Linked DNA regions of Homo sapiens: region 2 is linked to region 1. Evidence: fine-mapped expression QTL. Tissue or cell type: tibial artery. Region 1 holds a variant in brackets; the other region holds the start of a gene. All regions are shown on one strand. Distances are from middle to middle.

The links. PIP is the estimated chance that this variant, and not a neighbour inherited with it, causes the effect.
Region 2: it holds the start of ELMO3, and the variant in region 1 is fine-mapped to the expression of ELMO3 in tibial artery (GTEx, PIP above 0.99). The same link has a PIP of 0.9 or more in atrial appendage, fibroblasts and skeletal muscle.

What each region holds. Positions count from the first base shown.
Region 1 is chr16:67,135,344-67,138,095 of GRCh38, reverse strand. The region is part of intron 8 of PHAF1 (phagophore assembly factor 1); the gene reads right to left. Among named protein-coding and RNA genes, the nearest start is that of B3GNT9, 14 kb to the left of the region's middle. The variant C/G (reference allele first, on the strand shown) is at 1,273.
Region 2 is chr16:67,198,139-67,200,638 of GRCh38, reverse strand. ELMO3 (engulfment and cell motility 3) reads right to left here and starts at 1,508. Exons shown (of 20, transcript NM_024712.5): 1 at 1,235-1,508; 2 at 1,046-1,086; 3 at 883-955; 4 at 638-688; 5 at 278-447; 6 at 89-188. The coding sequence starts at 1,312. E2F4 (E2F transcription factor 4) reads right to left here. Exons shown (of 10, transcript NM_001950.4): 10 at 1,721-2,500. RefSeq lists a silencer at 2,113-2,172.

The sequences.
Region 1 (2,752 bases):
GTATAATTACTAAGAGTTTCAGCTACTTTTTAGATTGTGATTCCCCAAAGTGTATCTTTCTACAAATTATTGTGGAGACCAGATGGCTGAACTGACTCCCTGCATTAAAAGCATCACTGCAGCCATATTCCATAAGGAAGGATATGAGAAATGAGTGGGTTGAGAAACTTGTGCTTGCCACAGGAAACTCTCAGTGAAGACGATAACCCTTTGAGGCCCTGACTTAACAAATCATTTGCCCTGCTGACAGTGTAAGCAGTGAGCAGTGTGACTGCTGGGAATGTGCTGTACAAGGTGGCAGACATAATTGGCTGAGAGCCCACCCTCGACAGGCTCCTCCTGCTGTCTCCTGGGATGATTAATGACCCTGATCCTTGACCACCCTGCTGTTTCAAGCAGTGATCCTCTTGGGAAAAAACCACACTAAATCACTTGACTTTGCTGCCACATCTCAATTCTCTCAAAAACTATAGCTCAGGCTGGGTGCGGTGGCTCACACCTGTAATCCCAGCACTTTGGGAGGTTGAGGCGGGCGGATCACTTGATGTCAGGAGTTTGAGACCAGCCTGGTCAATATGGTGAAACCCCATCTCTACTAAAAATACAGAAATTAGCCTGGCGTGGTGGCACACGTCTGTAATCCCAGATACTTGGGAGGCTGAGGCATGAGAATCGCTTTAACCCAGGAGGCAGAGGTTGCAGTGAGCTGAGATCACACCACTGCACTCTAGCCTGGACAACACAGCAAGACTCTGTCAAAAAACAACAACAACAAAAAACCCCAAAACCATAGCTTAAGCATGACACTCCTTTAAGTGGTTGTTCTGTCTTGGCTAGAAAATCACATTTTAAGAAATTCGTAACGTGAAGGTTGTGAACTGTCTAACTGTTCACAGAAGTGGGCTCAGAGTTCATATACCAGATTCTTTTTTTTTTTTTTTGAGAAGGAGTCTTGCTCTGTCGCTCAGGCTGGAGCGCGGTGGCGCTATCTCGGCTCACTGCAAGCTCCACCTCCTGGGTTCACGCCATTCTCCTGCCTCAGCCTCCCGAGTAGCTGGAACTACAGGCGCCTGCCACCATGCCTGGCTAATTTTTTCTATTTTTTAGTAGAGATGGGGTTTCACCGTTAGTCAGGATGGTCTCAATCTCCTGACCTCGTGATCCGCCCACCTCGGCCTCCCAAAGTGCTGGGATTATAGGCGTGAGCCACTGTGTCCAGCCTATATACCAGATTCTTAATAATTAAGAACCATTTGGGAGGCTGAGGTGGGA[C/G]GACCGCTTAAGGCTAGGAGTTTGAGACCAGCCTGGGCAACATAGGGAGACCACGTGTCTACAAAAAAATAGAATTAGCTGGGTGTGGTGGTGTGCACCTGTAGTCCCAGTTTCTTCGGAGGCTGAGGCAGAAGGATTCCTTGTGCCCAGGAGTTCAAGGCTGCACTTAGCTATGATGATGCCACTGCATTCCAGCCTGGGTGACAGAGGGAGACCATGTCTCAAAGAAAGAAAAAAGAAGCAAAAAAAAAAAAAAAAAAAAAAAAAAAGGAATCAATGCCTCAGAGACTGATGCAGGAACCCAATTTACGAATAAATGCTGGTTAGGCAATGAGCTCCACGAAGGTTCTCAGCTCTCTTTATGGGAACAAACTCCACGCTGAAGCTCCCAGTCCCGTTAAGCACGATCCACAACCCAAAGCAGCTGAAGTTGGCCAGGCATGGGAATGTCACAAAATGAGGCATGGATCCTGGAGGGACCAGCTACTGAAGGTGGCACTCTTTTTTTTTTTTTTCTGTGAGAAGGAGTTTCGCTCTTGTTGCCCAGGCTCCAGTGCAATGGCGCTATCTCAGCTCACTGCAACCTCCGCCTCCTGAGTTCAAGCGATTCTCCTGTCTCAGCCTCCTGAGTAGCTGGGAGTACAGGCGTGCTTTACCACGCCCAGCTAATTTTTGTATTTTTAGCAGAGATGGGGTTTCATCATATTGGTCAGGCTGGTCTTGAACTCCTGACCTCAGGTAATCCACCCGCTTTGGCCTCCCAAAGTGCTGGGATTACAGGCATGAGCCACTGCACCCGGCCAACTATTTCTTTTTGTTGTTGTTGTTCATGGTTGGCAAAACTCTGGCCAAGGTGTGGCCAAACCACAATTCAACAAGTCCCGTCTGCTTGCCTACGTTGAGAACTTGGCATAAAGGGTAGAAAAAGGAGAGCCAGGCATGGTGGTGCGTGCCTGTAGCCTAGTCAGGAGGTTAAGGCAGGATTGCTTGAGCCCAGGAGTTCAAGGCCACAGTATTCCAATGCACACCGGCCTGGATAATATAGGGAGAAAAGCTGGGTGTAGCGGCTTGCACCTGTAATACCAGCACTTTGGAAAGCCAAGGAGGGAGGATCGATTGAGCCCAGGAGTTCAAGATCATTCTGGGTAACACAGCAAGACCCATCTCCACATAGACAAAAATTAACTGGGCATGGTAGCACATGCCTGTGGTCCTAGCTACTTGGGAGGCTTAGGTGAGATCACTTGAGCCCAGGAGTTTTGAGGCTGCAGTGAGCTATGATTGCACCACTGCACTACAGCCTGGATGACAGAATGAGGCCATCTCTTACAAAACAAAACAAAACAAAACAAAAAAAGGTAGAAAAAAGGGGAGAGCTGGCCAGGTGCGGTGGCTCACGCCTGTAATCCCAGCACTTTGGGAGGCCGAGGTGGGCGGATCATGAGGTCAGGAGTTCCAGACCAGCCTGAACAACATGGTG
Region 2 (2,500 bases), 63 kb before region 1:
TCACCACCTCACCCCCATGGAAGACCGGGTCTACCACTGCCCCACTGCTCCACTGCCCCCACCCGCTGCCCTAGGAAAGCCCACCCACCTTCCTCACAAAGGGGATGCTCAGAGTCTCCCAGGACACCACGCCGTGCTCCATGAGCTCTGAGAAGGCCCTCAGGCTGAGGGCCAGCACCTCTCCTAGGCTGGAGGGGGGACATCTGGGGCTGAGCAGGACCACCCCAGGACCAGAAAGACCCACCATCTCCCCCAGCCCACACATCCCTGTGCTCACTCGTCCCCATCTTCAATGATGGTGCCTAGTATCTGGAGCCCATTACGGCTGATGACCTCCCTGGCAAAGATCATGTCCGAGGCCAGCGGAACAAGGCGCCTCAGGGCTTCCCGGCGCCCTTCAGGACTGTTACTCTGCAGCCCACCCAAGAGCTGCTCAGCCTCAAGGTCCTGGCAGGAACGGAGCAGGAGCAGAGGTGAAGAGGCTGGGCATGGTAAGGGTGGGACCTGGAAGTGTGCGGCCCCGGGCGTCAACTAGGTGGCGCAAGGCAGGGCTGGGGCGGGGGCCTCCGGGGCGGGGGGCCTCTGGACCTGGAGCAAAGGGGCAGGGATGGGGAAGGCGGGACGGGAGGGGCATTACTGGGGCCGTGCTGAGGCACAGGATGCTGCCATTCTTGATCTCCGCGCGGTTCTGGAGAAGACAGCAGAAAAGGCAGCGAGGTCAGGGAGGGCTCCGAGGACTGATCAACTGGGGTGTCGGTGAGGGCGGCTGGGGGTGAATAACAGATCGCGCTCCGGTAGTGGGATGAAGAGCCAGAGTTATCGGGGCCAGGTGGGTTAGAGGGGTCGGAAGGCCGAGCTTGGGGCTGGGGAGAGGGGACTCACATTCTCGGTGATGTATCTCCGGTGCCCATCCGCAAACTGCAGGGCGTAACGCTCAGAGTGCGTCAGGCTCCACCTGAGGGGCACGAGGCTCAGCGAGGCCGGCAGGGGGCGCCGCCCCTCCTGCCCTCCCGCCCTCCGCAGGCCCTGGCCCGGCAGCACTCACGCGTCGCACACCTCCTTCAGCACAGCGGCCAGGGGCTTCGCCTGCAAGTGGAGTGGTCATTCTCGCGGCCTGGGCAGGGAGGGATGGGGAGGAGCCTGGGGGGAGGGGTGGGGCGGGCTGCCCCGAGGGCCAGGGGGCTACCGGGAGGTGGGGCAGTGGGGCAGATGGAGGCGGGACCAGCCGGGTGACCTGGTCCAGCTGGATGAGCTGCGGGATGGCGTCACGCATCTTGATGGCAATCTTCACCACGTTCCGCGGAGGCGCCATGGTCCAGCTGGGACGTGGGCGCCTGCACTTTCCGGAGACCGTGCACCTGCGGCCAAGGGTGCACCTGGCCTGGGGCCCCTGGGGACGAGGAGGTCCTCCCTTTCCGAGACCTGACCTCGGTGTCCCGCACTCGCGGCCCAGACTGCTGCTCCTGGCCATGCAACGCGGCCTTCCCAAGGGAGCCGAGGTTAGTTCCGGGTTGGAGTCTGGGGGTAGGAAGGTAGGACGGCTCCGCCTGCCCCGCCCCGCCGAGGCGGCCCCGCCCCACACCAAGGTGCGGCAGGTGGGGGCGGGGAGGGCAGGCTGCCGGAGGCCGCCCCACCCCTAGTTCCAGCAAGGTGACCCACCCAATCACACTGCCAGTCCAGCACAGTCCCAAGGAGGGTCCCCAAAGAACCACATCAGAGCTAGCCTTAGGCATGGTTTTTATTCACTTGAACACTGTACAAATATTACAATTTCCTTTTGCTGCAAAAAGTATAAAAATAATCTTTATATAGGAATCCATTCGTTACTGTAAATCTTTCTAAATCTCTGCAAATGGCTCTAAATGAGGGTAAATGAAAAAGCCGAAATGAAGAGAGGGTTATGGGGCAGCAGGAGGTGGGGCCAATCATCAGGGCTGGACCACCCAGACTCCTCCCCAGAGACCTCTGTTCCTTCTTGGTAGCCGCCCCCACCACCTGCAGGTTCTAGGGCTAAAGGCCCAGCAGAAGTGGGCACGTGAGAGGGCCAGGAGGAGCTGGAGGGTCAGGGGGTGGGGGATAGCGAAGGAAGCTAGAAGTGGTGCTGGCATGTGCCCAGTTCCACCCCACCCTTCCCTCCTAGGGGAAGGAGCTGGCAGAAGCAAGACACTGAGGCTGGCAGGAACAAGACACTGCCCCCTATGGGGGGTAATGGCAGCTCCTCGGTTCTGTGCCACTGGGTGGCAGCCGAGCCTGGGCTGGCGAAGGCCGCAGAAAGGGAGAAGCAAACACTTTGGCTCCACGGTGATGGGGGCTGAGTCCTGTTCCCCTGCTCTGCGAGCACAGAAGTGCCAGCACAGGAGCGGGAGCTGTGGCCAGAACTGTGCGGTGAGGGGAGGCCGGAGAAGCCAGGCGTCTGTGGCTCTCAAGCTCTGTAGGGGTCGGGTGGGAGAGGTCCCCAGGCAACCCCCAGGTCAGACAGTCTGGGTCCCAGCCACACAGG